Linked DNA regions of Homo sapiens: region 2 is linked to region 1. The links come from fine-mapping of genetic effects on gene expression. A gene starts in region 1. The other region holds a variant in brackets. All regions are shown on one strand. Distances are from middle to middle.

The links.
Region 2: its variant is fine-mapped to the expression of MGAM in whole blood (TOPMed, PIP above 0.99).

The regions. Positions count from the first base shown.
Region 1 is chr7:141,991,871-142,000,213 of GRCh38, forward strand. MGAM (maltase-glucoamylase) reads left to right here and starts at 4,009. Exons shown (of 71, transcript NM_001365693.1): 1 at 4,009-4,060. RefSeq lists an enhancer at 3,707-4,208.
Region 2 is chr7:142,102,368-142,110,710 of GRCh38, forward strand. It overlaps MGAM (maltase-glucoamylase), which reads left to right. Exons shown (of 71, transcript NM_001365693.1): 69 at 263-312; 70 at 902-1,072; 71 at 3,447-4,380. The coding sequence ends at 3,524. Among named protein-coding and RNA genes, the nearest start is that of MGAM2, 5.2 kb to the right of the region's middle. The variant T/G (reference allele first, on the strand shown) is at 3,094.

The DNA of each region.
Region 1 (8,343 bases):
CACAATGATTATACCTTGGTCTGGCCTGAACCATGTTTTTAAATCCAGGGACTTGGAGCTAAGCCTTTAAACTGCTACAGTCAGGCAACATCATAGATGTTGTGCAGGGTAGGTGTTCAATAATTTTTCCTTTGTAAACATGAATGACTGCCTGCTATGTTCGGAATTCTGATTTGGGGTCGAATGAGAGATTGGCATATTTGAATGGGCCTTGGATTGGGGATTCAGGGTCTGAGCTCTTGTCACAACTGTGGCAGATGCAAACTGATCATATTAATTGTAACTGACACTTACTGAGTATTTACTAAGTAACATCAAGTCTTTTACTCACATTATTTTGTCTAGTTTATAAATTTATTGATAGGTAGTATTTTAATCTTCATTTAAGTTACAGAATCAGAGACTTAGTTGCTTAAGCTCCCCCAGTTAATAAGCAGACCTGGGCTTTGCAATTCAGGCCTGCCCTGTTCGGATCTGGAACTCTGAGTCACCACCCACACAAACCTCCTATTCCTGGGTCTCAATTTCCTCTTCTGTAAAATAAGGAGGCTATGCTTAGTGATTTTTAAAGTTCTTTAAGGGCGATACCAAACAACTCAAGTCACATGTCTTAGGAGCTTGATGGATGTGCATTTGGGTGGCAGTTTAGACATTTGCTGCCTTGGGGCCATTGTGAACATCAGTGAGATCATGTAGGTGAAGGTCTTGTTTTTATTTATTTATTTTTATTGAGGCAGGCTCTCACTCTGTTACCCAAGCTGGGCTGCAGTGACATGATCATAGCTCACTGCAGCCTTGACCCCCAGGCTCAGGTGATACTCCCACTTCAGCTTCCCAAGTAGCTGGGACTACAGGTGTGGACCACCACACTCAGCTGATTTTTTTTATTTTTTGTAGAGACATGTTCTCCTTATGTTGCCCAGGCTGGCCTTGAACTCCTGGGCTCAAGTGATCTTCTCGTCTTGGCCTCCCAAAGTGCTAGGATTACATGTATGAGCCACTGCTTCAGACCCAAGGTCTTGGCACTCGGCCAGCCTCCATGCATGCCAGTTTTCCTTTCTTTCCTCTTTTAGCTGTAAATTCTTTGATTCTATGATGCCAAAGAAACACGGTAAGTCAGTGTTACCACGGTGGTTGTTGTTCACTGATGGTTCATGAAATCAGAAAAGTAAGGATAAGGAAGTAAACTTTCAAAGAGATAAATTGATTCAATTTTGATTATCTGTCTATGTCTACTGTGAAACGACTGTGATAAGAGATAGTGATTTTTGTTTGTATTTTCCAGATGATATACATGGTTTATAAATTTAGGTCTCTTGGCCCAGATTTTTTTCTGAATTTTCACTAGCCCATAAAGACAAATGCCTAGAAATAGCAGTAGCTGAGCAGGACTTTTTAAACTATGTGTGGTAAAACAGCAATTGTTTTAAAATTGTCCAATATATCACAGACTGTGGCTTTTGTAAAATTAAAACTAAATTACTTGAAAAATAAATTTTAAAAAAGCATATACAGATACAAGCTCCATTTTTTAATTATCAAGATCAATGACATGAAATGATTCTGTCAAATTGTAATGCAAGTCTCTCAACACTTACCTTCAATTTCTGTGCTTATTTTTCTGGAAGCTGGCAACCACAGGTTCACAGATAACTCTTGGAGTATCACAGAGCGGGGAACTCTGCCCCACTTGGAGGAAGGTCCACTTAGTAACAGAGCAAAGTTCTTAACCTGGGGTTTGTAGATATAATTCTGAAAGCCTGTGAACTTGGAGGGGGAAAATATTTACATATCTTTTCTTTGCTAAATTCTAATTGAAATTTAGAGTTAGGCTGCAAACTACAGTGGTGTTAGTAGTACCTATGAATTTGGTTTCAAGAGAGGTCACAGTTACTTTCACATCATATATTTAAAACAATCTCAAGATATTGTTTACGCTTATCATGTTTTTGAAATTGCAATCGCTATTAGACATATCGCTTTATTGTTAGTATGTCATTAAAGAGGCACAAACTATAATTTAAAAAATATTATAGTAACTGTGTTTCAATGTAATTGATTTTCTTTGTATCTCAGCTCACTACAACCTCCGCCTCCTGGGTTCAAGTGATTCTCTTGCCGCAGCCTCATGAGTAGCTGGGATTACAGGCACGCACCGCCATGCCCGGCTAATTTTCGTACTTTTAGTAGAGACGCGGTTTCACCATGTTGGCCAGGCTGGTCTTGAACTCCTGGCCTCAGGTGATCTGTCCACCTCAGCCTCCCAAAGTGCTGGGATTACAGGCGTGAGCCACTGCACCTGGCCTAAGAATTAATTCTAAGAGGGGTTTATAAGCATGTCTCAGCTCCATAAGTTCTTCTTGCCCACTGCCCTCCAAAAAGATCAATGAGAACAGCAGGCATTGCAGTAAATAAAGAGTTGAATAATCACAGTGTTGGCCAAACAAGAGCAGGCAAAAACTTCTCAATCCCCTCTCCCTCAGGATTCAAAGGCTAAGGTTTGTAAAGGGTACTTTGGTGGGCATGGGGCTGGGGAACTTGTATAATTGATTGGCAGGGAATGAAATCACAGGAGCACCTAAAACTGTCTTTGTGCAACTGAGTCAGTTCCCAGGAGGGGTGTGTGTGTTGGCCTCAAGACTAGGTGGTGTCTGTTGGTCTACTGAAATGCTAACAAATATCTAAAAGACCAGTTATTTAGGTTTCACAATAGTGATTGATATGGTTAGGCTTTGTGTCAGAACCCAAATCTTATCTTGAATTGTAATCCCCATAATCCCCATGTGTCAAGGGAGGGACCAGGTGGGATGTGATTGGATCATGGGGGCGGATCCCCCTATGCTGTTCTCATGATAGTGGGTGAGTTCTCATGAGATCTGATGGTTTTGCAAAGCAGTTTTCCCTGCTCTTGCTCACTCTCTCTGGCCTGCCGCCATGTTAAGAAGTCCCTGCTTCCCCTTCCACCATGATTGTTTCCTGAGGCCTTCCCACCCTTGCGGAACTGAGTCAACGAAACCTCTTTTCTTTATAAATTACCCAGTCTCAGGCATGTCTTTATAGAAGTGTGAAAACAGACCAATACAGTGATGTTATCTTTGGTAGTTGGGGAAGTTATGAATTTTGTGACACTGGTTGTGTGACTGGGGCAGTAAGCAACTTATAGAAAAACAAACTAAGCCATGGCAGGACATTGTTTATGCCTATTCTTTAGCAAAGTCTAAGCCCCTACCATAATTCCAACCTTGCCTTATGAATGCGCCTTTAAGCTCCAGGCAAGGAGGGGGATCATTTTCCCTTGACTCCAAGTTTAACTATAAACTAAATCCCTCTCATAGGTTTCTTGGCCTTTGTACTAGAATAAGCAAAAAGCCAACCAAAAAAAAAAAAAATCCCCTAGAAAACATAATTTAGCCTGGGAGGTTAGAAGCAAGATGGAGTCAGTCTTGTTAGATTTCTCTTATTTATAGTTCTGCAAAGGCAGTTCAAGAGTCACCAGACTGTTAAAGGATTTCCATACTGCAAACAAGCTTAAGGACACCTTAAAGAAGAAAGAAGAAAACTATTTTTAAAACATTTTTAAAACAACTTCCTTCCATCACAATCATCAGATTGTGCTACTAAACGTCAGTGAGTTCCTGAGAGATTCGGAGTCAGTGCAAGAGACCAGGGCTCTTTTGGAATACTGGGGTCATTTATTTTTTGCTCTTTATCATCTACAAATTGTGTCTGTGTTCTCTTACCAGACATACAGGGTGTCCTCACCACCGATTAAACATTCAGTGCCTGGAGGGGATGGAGTGGGTCATGGGAGCTGGCTTTTCCTTCCAAAAGTCTTAAGGATGTCCTTCTTAGAGCAAGACCACGATTACTAATTAACTAAAAATTCTGATCCTGGAAATAAAAGCTGGCCATTCATTTGCATTTGAAAGCCATTAACATTTTCTTGATAGGTCGGTAAATAGTTACCAGATCTTTGGTTGCTTTGGTGGACTGTGCTCCTCTGCTTTTATTGCTAAGCCATCCTTCAGACAGAGAGGGAGCGGCTGCAAGAGGTAATGAGGTATGTTTGTGAACCTTGTATTCTTTTACGGTTACAGATGTGTGTCTACAAGTGTGTGTGAATTTGAGTTGATCTCTTTTAGTCAAAATGCCCTTGTTGGCCGGGTGCAGTGGCTCACACTTGTAATCCCAGCACTTTGGGAGGCCGAGGCGGGTGGATCACGAGATCAGGAGATCGAGACCATGGTGAAACCCCATCTCTACTAAAAAAATACAAAAAATTAGCCGGGCATGGTGGCGGGCGCCTGTAGTCCCAGCTACTCGGAGAGGCTAAGGCAGGAGAATGGCGTGAACCTGGGAGGTAGAGCTTGCAGTGAGCCGAGATCACGCCACTGCACTCCAGCCTGGGTCGTAGAGCGATACTCCGTCTCAAAAAAAAAAAAAAAGCCCTTGTTAATTTGTTAAACACAAAGATAAACAACACCAATAATAAATCAAAAATTATGCACATGCATACACATGGAACAAAATTCTCATTTATCTTTTTTTCTTAGTGTGTGTATATTTTTCTGAACTAAGGCTGGATCTATAAGCCTGATTGTAGTGAAACCTGTGTGTTTGTGTGTGTTTCTGTGTGAGGTGTGATGAATTATTTAATACTTAGGTTGAGGTAGCAGGCAGAAATTCTTTCAGATTCTGGAAATGAAGTGAGAGAAATGAATAAAAGGAGTTAGAATTTGGGAGTGAGATTAGAGCATTTTCCCTCTGAAAGGATTTGGAGTTGTGATTGAGAAAATGTAACTGAAGAACCAATTATAATCAGAAAATTGAGAAATATATCACTATGCTTATGGGTTTGGTGCCTCTGTTGATTAAATACAGAATAATTTTAGGGGATAGTCTGAGGATGTGTGTAAAATATTGGGATGCATTTATGAGTTGGTGTGCATTGGTGGGTAGGAGAGGTTTCCTGTGGAATGTGGGAGGAGGTCATAAAGAGAAAGGTAGGGTATCTGTCCTGGCAGTCATGTGTGGAGTAGAATGGGAGTGCTCGTGGGAAGAGGAGAAGGTGATAAATTGTTGTTGGCCCTTAAACTTAAAAACTTAAAATAAAATACTTAAAATAAACTTAAAATAAAACTTAAAATAAAACTTAAAAAAAGTTGGATCCTTACTAGTTGCCAGTCTAGCTAGACACACGCAGGCATTTCTTTTCTGACTGGTTACAGAGGTGGGAAGGGAGAGTTACTCTTGGGGAAAGAGAGAGAAATTGAGACTAATCCCCATGGGTCTCCCTGAAAAAGGATACCACTAGGTTCTTCATGCAGGATCTGATCAGTGGCTTTGCTGGGCGAGGAAGACCTCCCAATGTCCAAACTGTCTACAGTCTGTGTCCTGGTGTGGGACAGTAAGTGTATGTCTGTAGGTGTGCAAAGAGGGGGTGAGATGGAGGGGGTCTTTGGTTTGTTGTGCTGGTAGGTCCCTGTGCTACCAGGGACCAAATGAAGTGGGACACTAAATTTAAGACAGCTTGTTGCTATTTCAGTCACACTCTCACAAGATGCCAATGATTATTTTTTATTATCAGGCATTCCCTCACAAATACATTTTAATGAGCTAATAAAATTACTATAAAAATTGTTCTATAAGCATGGAATGGAACTAGAAAAGAAATTTTCCATTTAAAATTTGTTCAGGTGGCAGCTGTGGAATGTGATGAGAAATATAAGCCTTTGCACACCCTGTTGCTGGGCTCAAGGAGGAGTTAGCTGTCTCCTAGAGATGATCCTTTTGCAGTTCAGATGGGGAAACTGAGACCCAGAGGGGTTAAGTGGATTTTTCCAAGGTCATACAGCTGGCTAGGGTCAGAGCTGACTCTTAAATCTCTCACCTTGGGTGTGACCAGACTTGGAAGAAAAAAGCCATTCATTAGCTACCTTATCCCTTCCCATTCACCAAGCAGCTGGGAAAGGATGGCCCAACCTACTAATATCGCCCAGCATTTTTGATGAATAGCTATGGCTCACTGGGGTCCTCTTTGCAAGTTGTTCTTAGTCTATCTATCCACAATGAATCCTCTTTTCCACTAGATCTCATGTCTTGTGTTAGCAAAGGATTTTAAAAGAATGGCTTAGACCTCCATATACACATCAAACGCTGGCTATAATGCCGGAAAGAGGACAAATATCCAGTTTTTCCAAATTAATTTAGATAGCCATTTTAATAATTTGGGCCCCCATGTGGTTTGTCTACTTTGCCTAAAGAACTATAATGGTACCAGGACAATGAGCTTTGACAATTATTCATATACTAAATAATTCAAGAAGAAAAAAATTCTATTGCTTTTGCGTAATGTATATATAGTAATAATTCTTTTTTTAAATTTTACTTTAAGTTCTGGAATACATGTGCAGAATGTGCAGGTTCGTTACATGGGTATACATGCGCCATGGTGGTTTGCTGCACCTGTCAACCCATCATCTAGGTTTTAAGCCCCACATGCATTAGGTATTTGTCATAATTCTCTCCCTCCCCTAGCCCGCCATCCCCTGACAGGCCCTAATGTGTGATGTTCCCCTCCCCATGTCCATGTGTTCTCATTGTTCAACTTCCACTTATGAGTGAAAACATGTAGTGTTTGGTTTTCTGTTCCTGTGTTAGTTTGCTGAGAATGATGGCTTCCAGTTTCATCCATGTCCCTGCAAAGGACATGAACTCATCCTTTTTTATGACTGCATAGTATTTCATGGTGTATATGTGCCACATTTTGTTTATTCAGTCTATCATTGATGGGCATTTGGGTTGGTTCCAAGTCTTTGCTATTGTAAATAGTGCTGCAGTAAACATACGTGTGCGTGTGTCTTTATAGTAGAATGATTTATAATCCTTCGGGTACATACCCTGTAATGGGATTGCTGGGTCAAATGGTATTTCTAGTTCTAGATCCTTAAGGAATTGCCACGCTGTCTTCCACAATGCTTGAACTAATTTACACTCCCAACAGTGTAAAAGCGTTCATATGTATATAGTAATAATTCTTATATTTCAGTAAGATTATTTTCTGACCAACCTAATTAAAATTGCCACCCTTACCCCAACATTCCTCATTTACCCCCCACTTTTTCTCCATATACTTACACAGTATAACCCAGTGTATATTTATTTATTTTGTTTATTGTCTCTTTTTTCTATTCATGGGAACATAAGTCTCATGACGGCAGGGATTTTTATCTGTTTTGTTCATTGTTGTGTAGTCAGTTTTTGAAAGAATGCTTGGCACATTGTAGGAACTTAATAAATAATTCATGAATGAATAAATAAACTGCAAGCAGATTTCTTTCTTCCAGAGATGTAGTTTAGATAATGATGAATGATCTTGGCAAATGAGGCACATCAGTAGCTTCTTCTAGGTCTCCCAGATAATTTAAAACGTGCTATGGGCCATAAACTTAATGTGTTTTTATTTGATAAAACTATAATCTCACAGAAAGCCCAAGCTGGTGTACACTGTGGGGCATTATAGCATAGAATACAGAGTGATGGTTAAAAGCCATGGCTGTGGAGTCCAAAGGGCAGGTGTTCAAATTGTGGCTTTGCTCCTTATCAGCTGTATGATGACATCAGGCAGTTTATTTGACGTTTCTGAAGCTTAGTTTTTTCATCTGAAAGTGAGGATAGTAGCCATGATTAACTTGCAGTCGTTATAAAAATGGCATGTGACAAATTATGGAAACCTCTTAGGATATCTGCTCAATCACTGTTAACCATTATTATCATTAGCATTAAAATTGCATAGTTATATATTTGTCCTATAAAAAAATAGTCAAAGATTAAGGACAGATTGCCAAGTAGCAGTTTTTTAAAAAACATTTTTAAAAGCCCTTAACCCTATTTAAATTATTTCCTTTTTTATTTGCGTCTTGCCATTTTTCCTGATCTTAGTTTTTCTTCAATTGCATTTCTAATTGAGATAGGAAGCTTCACCATCAAGAGTTCTATAATGCAGGAAGTAAGGTCAATCAGATAATGCTGGAGTTTTTTTTAAGGTTTAAGGAAATCTTTCTCTTGTATAGCTAGAAAATAGATATTATTGTTCCATAGAGCAAGTAACCATATTTGAAAATATGGAGCAAAAGGACTATTAATAAACAGCAAACATGTTTTTAAAAATATGCTAATGATATTTTATTAAAAAGTCATATTTACCTATGCATATTGGTTATCTATTGCAGGGTAACAAATTACCTTACAATTTTGTAGTTTAAAACAACAAACATTTATTATCTCCCAATTTATGTAGGTCAGAAATATGGGGGTGAGTTAGCCGAGTGGTGCTGATTTAGG
Region 2 (8,343 bases), 110 kb after region 1:
TGACTCTGTCAGACAGATGTGTCTATACACATTCATTTCAAGCATTTTGTGTAAACTGAGTGTGGGTGCAGGGTTTGATTAGTCTCCATAAAGAGCACTTACATTTTAAAATAGAACACTCAAAAGACAGAAATAAAAACAAAGATAAGCCTTACTCTCTCAAACAAGACAAGTAGGCAATTAGAACAGCATTTATATATTCTATAGCATAGAGTTCTACAGCACAGGTCCAGGCCATGTTTATCTTGTTTTTTGTTTGCAGATACCTATGGGAAAGGACTCTATTACTTGGCCAGCTTTTCTGCCAGCCAGGTGAGTGTGATTGATATGAAGTGAGAATAGGGTTCCACTGGCTTAGGAGGGTGCTGAATATCGTAAGGGCATAAAATACCACCTAGAATTTCTTCATTGCTCATCTTGCTAATTCACATTCTTCTACTTCTCTAGACTTCCGGTGGAAATTTACTATGCTCCCAGGAGGCTTTCTGCAATTAAACCTATCCACATCTCATCAGTAATGATCATTATTCTAGTTTACCATGTTACAGGTGGACGGGCAGTTTCTGTTATCTAGCCCTTGTTCCTGAGTTGCCTTGGAATGGTCTGCACATTTTGGGATTCCTCCACCTGTAGAATATAAGTATCTTAACAGCTGAGACTTTTTGTCTCCTGTAGAGTTCAGGGCAGTGCGAAAGACCCTGTAGCTGCTTGTCAATGCAAAGTGGATGGGAGTTGGCAATAGGCCATAGAGTGATGAAATCATGATTTCCATGATCCAAAGTTACAAGATGGTGACTCTGAAGTTGTCTTACTTTATGACCTACATTTGTGCCTAAAAAGAGGTTAGAAAAATTTGAACTAATTCTGCTATTATATTTTTCTTTTATCTCCAATTCAACAGAATACGATGCAAAGCCATATAATTTTCAACAATTACATCACTGGTACAAATCCTTTGAAACTGGGCTACATTGAAATCTGGGGAGTGGGCAGTGTCCCCGTTACCAGTGTCAGCATCTCTGTGAGTGGCATGGTCATAACACCCTCCTTCAACAATGACCCCACGACACAGGTTTGTGACCAGCAAAAAGTGCGAATGGTATTCTCCACCCTTAATATGCCTAGTGCAGTGCCTGACTGCTTCCCTTCCAAATGATGCCCTCTCCTGCCAGGCCCTCCGGGAATCCCTGAGTTTTCCATGTGTTAGGAATGGACCACGTGGAGATGAATGAAAAATCATGGTTTATCATCATTTGGAATCCATGGCCTGGATTCTTACTTTCCATGTTTGTCTTCTTGTCTGCAAACCTATGTAAAACTTTGTCTTGACTCCCTCACCTCTGCCTCAGAGATCAACTTCCCAAACAGGTTGGAACTATCATATTTTATCAAATATGATACCATCAGTGAAAATTGCTTCATTATTTCATGTGCCACAAAGAAAGAAAAAAGGATGACAAAACTATGATAGAATGCTTCCTTATCACTCAATTTTTTTTTTTTTTTTGAGACGGAGTCTCACTCTGTTGCCCAGGCTGGAGTGCAGTGGCATGTGATCTCAGCTCACTGCAAGCTCTGCCTCCCAGGTTCATGCCATTCTTCTGCCTCCCAAGTAGCTGTGACTGCAGGCGTCTGCCACTATGCCCGGCTAATTTTTTGTATTTTTAGTAGAGACAGGTTTTCACTGTGTTAGCCAGGATGGTCTCGATCTCCTGACCCTGTGATCCGCCTGCCTTGGCCTCCCAAAGTGCTGAGATTACAGGCGTGAGCCACTGTGCCCAGCCTCAGATTTTTATAATAAACTTATAGAAAGTTTTTGAAACTTCTTTAGCCATAAAGTTTTACCTATATATTTCAATATTGTAAGTGATAATATGGAGGAAAATGTTGAGTGGAGATACATTGATGATTCTGCCTCAACGTAATTTAAAAGAGGTAGACCCTAAATGTGAAGAAGCACTAGAAATAGCTTAACCAACTTGTATCGTATTTAAATTGTACTATTTAAATTCATATTAAACTGTTTTATTATTTAGTTTATTGTATTTATTATTATTTAGAAGAAAAATATGTGTTACAAATTGGTTAAGATATTTCCTCTGTACTGCAAAAGGTGTTGGTGATTCAGCATTTTATAAAAATTCTTCCACTAGTGTCTATGAAGTTTTTTTCCTGAGCCACTAACACACTTTATATACATTTTCATCCTAGTGCTTTCTTGATCTTACTAAATATTCCTTCCTGTAATAATCCTTAAATGTTTTCAGCCCATCCATTCATAACACAGTAATAGCAATGAAGCTTACACAGGCACAGACAATAACAATTATGCCATGAGTGCTGCTTGGCTCACAGTAATTCTATGGTTGTCGATTACAAGACACGCTCTTGTCAGATGAATGTTAAATATGTGAAAAATCTGTACCTTGGGATTAATGCTGTGTAGTGGTCCTGACACTTATCATCCCGATGGTAAATGAAACTTTCTTCCTTGTGTGCTTACTTATTATTTTTTTTCCTGAACTTTTTTCTTTCATAATCCTTCCTGATGATTAAGCCTGAAACAAAAGTTTTCTTTCAGTTTTGCATTCTTTACAGTTATTTCCTCATACTTGTGGTTTTCTTGTCAACAACTTCCCCAACTATACCATAAAGGACTTTGCCCAATCCTGTTGCTGACCAGCTCAGGGACAGACATGCAAGCTGATGAGGGCACATGCAGTGAAAGCTTCTTGACAGCATCTGCCTAGGAAGAAGCAGGAATAGTGGACTCTTGCTGGGCAAACACTGGGGTGCTATAGTGGAATAGGAGAAGGAGGAAACAGAAGGATGGTGCCAAGGAAAATCAACACCTCAGTAGAATGGAAAAGAGGGCATTCTCTCCAGTTTGTGCAGTTGTTTCTCTTCAGCGGTTGCATATTGAACATTTTTTTTTTTTTTGACTGAGTCTCACTCTGTTGCCTAGGCTGAAGTACACTGGTGCAATCTTAGCTCACTGCAGTCTCCGCCTCCCAAGTTCAAGTGATTCTCCTGGCTTAGCCTCCCTAGTAGCTGGGATTACAGGCACCTGCCACCACGCCTGGCTAATTTTTG[T/G]ATTTTTATTAGAGCTGGGGTTTCACCATGTTGGCCAGGCTGGTCTCAAACTCCTGACCTCAAATGATCCACCCACCTGGGCCTCCCGGAGTGTTGGGATTACCGGCGTGAGCCACCGCACCCGGCCCATATTGAATTATTTAAAGGCCCATCTCTACCACTGAATAATCTTTGTACTCTAAAAAATTAGAAAACACCCTTCTCATCTGAAACTTTGAAGGCAGTCTTTTAACTAGACAATACAATGTAGAAGTATTAGGGGGTTATTTGGACTGGATACTTGCACCTGATTTATTTGCATGCAGGAAATTTCAACACCGGATGCCCAATTCTTTTCCTTTGGTTCCTAACAGGTATTAAGCATCGATGTGACTGACAGAAACATCAGCCTACATAATTTTACTTCATTGACGTGGATAAGCACTCTGTGAATTTTTACAGCAAGATTCTAACTAACTATGAATGACTTTGAAACTACTTATACTTCATACTCATAAAAATTATTGTGTGTTGCTAATTTGTTCATACCCACTATTGGTGAAATATTTCTGTTAATTTTGTTATATGTTTTTTGTGTGAACCCTAAAGGTTAAACCTTAGCCCTGTGGGATAGGCAGTTAGGGAGGTGTGGAAAATCTATGCATTACCTTAATGTCTCTGTGTGGTTAGTATGGTAGTGACTGTTCATCATATGACATTTACTGAAGATGAACTGGGTCCATGATGAAGTGTGTGTATGTCCACGTTTGTAATCATAGAATGGACCCCATTCTTTTGTTAAATACACAAGAGAAAGCTTTCTGTGACAGTTCCAGGTCTTGAAGCTAATCAGCATCTCAAGAAAGTATCCAGAAAGAACATCTGCTAGTTGGTTATAGGCGGTGGGAGGAATAATATACCTAATTGGTTATAGGTGGGGGGAGCATGATAAGCAAAGAAAAGGCAAACACAAGGAAAGATCAGATGAAACAGAAGATGATAGTAAAAGTGATCCTAAGTAAGAACATAATGTAAAATTGTCAGCAGCCTCATGGGGAGGAAAAAGGAAGAGTCAACTCACTTGAAGAAGAGGGTCTTGAGAAATCCTTAGCATAAAGGGCTACTGGTGAGATTGAGATCTGAGCAGGCAAAGCTCAAAAGAGAGTTTGGAGGTTAAAAATAATTTATTTTTGCAGTAGTGTGCTTTGAAATGTGTAAATCTTATTTCTAATGTATACAACCACATTTCACATAAAAATATGCAATTTATATGCCAGATAAAAATAAAACAAGTGAATTTGCAAGTGATTTTGAATTTTGTGCTATTTTGACCATGAGTAATCTCTGTTTGGGGTTAAGGTTCTTGTTTAGCAAACTCTTATGAATTTGTCTTTCTGGTTCTCTTCGGCATCACAGAACCTACAGCCAAATCCACCAATAGGATGATAACCTTTATAATTATCCTTTTTCTTACATCTCTGCAAGGAGTCTTTTATAAGATGTGGGTTTGTGGAAGGGTCTATTGATTACTATTTTAATCATCATAGCAGTTGCTATATTTAGGAAAATACCAACTCCAGTAAAAATAGGAGTTGCAACCTTCTTGCTTAAAATTCTATAGGGTTAAAATGTGAGATAAGGAAATTATATATTAATGTTCAACAGGAATATTAACTTTTGATGTTACCTGAAAATGAGTTGAAAATGAATGTGTGTGGAATGAATGAACCTACTTCTCTGTGTTTTCTTCTTTTCTTATAACCAGGAAGCCATTCATTCTCCCTGCACACTCATGTGTCAGCACCTGCATAAGGCTAGAGACAAACAATATTGTTAAATCATCTAATTATCACAATACGGGGCATTTGGATGAGGGCCTGAGCTAACTAGGAAACTGGTGAAATATGGAAAAGCAGCCATGGGAATCCTTTGATCAAAAAGGTGGGAAACTTGTCAGCTTTCCTCTAACAAACTCAGGAAGGCCACAAAGATGAAAACGTTATTTACTTGATATTTAAAAAATATTTAATGTTACCATCAAGGATATGTTGGTGGAATTTGGCTCTGGCTGCCACAGAATGCTTAAGGAGAGGCATTCTGACTATATAATTCTGATGGCTAAGGCCCTAGTGAGGCCAGTGGGGTTTTGGAGCACACGAAGTGTCAGGGACCCCACTGACAGCCTAGTGAAACCTACGGAATTCTTCCTCACAACATTGTTTTTAAATGCATCAAGCAAAATGCATGCTATTTCAAAGAAAACTTATCATATTACGATACACTTATCCAAATATTAAAGATGATATAGTAACCCATGAGATGTGTTTTTTTCATTATCAAATTAAATGAAAAGATCCAACAGTGGAAGTAACAATGCTATAATTTCAATGTAATGATCAACATCAACAATATTTTGAGATATCCACTACAATTTCATAATGTAATATGGAAAGATCTGTGATTGCATTATTGACAAACTCATGTGCTATGAAAACTACTGTGTTTTGTTGTCTACATTCATAACCTAACAAAATGCTAAATTTCAGCCAGAAATGTGTGAAAAAGAGATTATCTGTTGGAACCAATATGGCTTACCGGAGTTAACGCAGAAAGAGCTTGCTGACGTCACAGCCTGAATTTCCACCACAGGTTCTTACTAACTCCCTCCCAAATTTGCACATGAGACCCATGATGAGGCATGAAGAGATAACTGTGCATGCCTGAGGACTTTCTAGATTTCCTCTTTCTTTTACCAATCACCTGCTAATCCCAGAATCCACCCCCTAAGTCTTTTCTGATAAAAATACTTCCTTAAAGCCAGCACAGGAAGACAGGTTTGAGCTGGACTCCTGTGTCCTGTGAGTCGACTTTGCAATAAAAGCTTTTCTTCGAAACCCTTTATCAGAGTATTGGCTTCTAGCGCATCGAAGAGTGAGCCCTTTCGCTCAATAATACCCCCAGAGGTTGTTCCTCAGATCACAGTCTGAGAACCACCTCTCATGGAACCATATCCATTTGTGGCCATCCCAGAGCAGCCCCTACAACATGGACCTATGCTTACAACTCCTGGCCAGCTATTCAGGAAGAGGCTGGGGGCCTTCCTTTTCCACATATGCTCTGTTTTTTAGATCACATAATTTTGCTTTCTTCATAGGTGTGCCAAAATAAAAAAAAAAACACTCTCAAACTCTTTCACTTAAATAGGAAGACATCTATTCCTTTCTTATTAATGTTATAACATTAAATGTCATATATACCTGCAAAGATAAGGTTATGTTGGCCGTGGCAGATGTCTTCAAGATCTCATCAATATTTCTTTGTTCTTGTCATAGCGGCAGAGTCACTGAGAGTTTTGCATCTGGCCTTGGAGAAAGGTGTTCTGGAAGTTAAGGGTGACTCATATTACTAGTTTCTGATCTGATGATTCCAACCAGCAGCTTGCTGTGACAACTGTTTGAGTTCCGCCAATAGCTAACTTTGCCGTGCCTTGTTACCGATAGACAACTGGAAGATGTCGGGTCACGTGCCTGTCTCTACCCTTCAAAGTGGCTCTGTTATTTTCTCATTGGTCAACACCAGTATGGTGATTCAATATCTTCCAGTTACTAGTTAGCAAGAATGGAAGGTGAAGGTAGCTATTTTCTGCACTTTAGGAAACAGGTTATAGATTAGCTGGGCCTGTTGGTTACCACTATTAACATAAATGAAGTCACAAATGTGCATGGCATGTGGGGAGTTAAAGGTAAAATATCACACAAAAAATAGATCTTATGTAACAATAAAATCTCCCTTCTTGACCTTTTGCCAGGATGTCTTCCCAATTTGAAATGAGATCTTGGTACATTTCCCCTCTAACAAAGGCCACCTTGTACTGGGGCAAATGAAAAGCTGAATATGTCATTCCAGCAGTTCATAAATGCAGAAACCGAGTCTCTCTTTCTCTCTCTCTCTCTCTGTCCCTCCCTCTCTCTCTCTCACTTTCTCTCTCTCTCTCCGTGTGTGTGTGTATGTGTGCTTTTCCACATACTGAGCATTTGAAGCAAACACAAAAGATTCACTACTGTGAACACTGTTATTTACAGTTCTTAGGTGCCACCAAAAGAGCTCTCTGTACCCTCATATATTACTGGCAGGAATGGGGGTGTAAAATGGTGCTGCCACATTAGAAAGCAGTTTTGCAGTTCTTCAAAAAGTTAAAGACTTGTCACATGACCCATGATTCCACTCCTAGGTATATTCCAGGCAGAATTTTAAAACGTGTCAGCTCATAGCAGCATCGTTCATAACAGGCAAAAAGTATCAACAACCTAGATGTATATCAGCTGATACATGCCTAAACAAAATGTGGTCTATCCACGCAGTGGATACTATCCAGACATGGAAAGGAACAGACACTGATACCTGAAATGGTGTGGATGAACTTTGAAAATATCATGCCAAGTAAAAGAAGCCAGACACAGATGGCCACATATTGTATTACTGCATTTATATGAAATGTTCACAATAGGCAAATCCATAAGGACAGAAAGTAGGTTAGTGGCTGCAGAAACAGGGGGAGATGGGAATGGGGAGTGACCACTAATTATTTTTGGGGGTGGCAAAAATGTTCTGGAATTAGATAGTGGTGATAGTTTCAGAATTTTGTAAATATATTTTTAAAAACACTGAATTGTATACTTTAAAAGAGTGAATCTTATGGTTTGGAAATTATATGTCAATTTAAAAATCCACTTTAGCTGGCTTAAGAAAAATTTTAAAAAGATATTGGTGACTCATTGAAACTCCGGTAGGACTAGAGAGTCAGGTTTGTAGGCCATGTGGCTAGGGACAAGCCCCAGGTTACCCTGTAGCGGTTTCTACTGCCACTGCCCTGAGCACATATCTGGCAGCTCGCAACCCCAAATACTGAGCATAGGATGCCACTAGGTCTCTTGTCCCTGCTGCCTCTGAAACGAGCTATGCTTCCAACATCCTGGATTTTACATGGTACCTCCTTATCTACACCTTCTTCTGGATGTAAGTCACTCACAGGAATATCTCATTCACAAAGCTCCAGCCACTTGCCTCTACCTTGGATGAAAGAAAGGCTGTGAAAGAGAATTTCTAGCTGTTTCTTTGGGGAGGCAGAATTTGGAGAAAAAGTCCTTAAGTTGATTTAAGTAAGAGGTTTTCTTTTTCTTTTTAAAGAAAGATCCTCCGTTTTTAAATTTTTTTCAACTTTTATTTTAGATTCAGGGTCTAAGATTCAGGGTGCATATACAGGTTCATTTC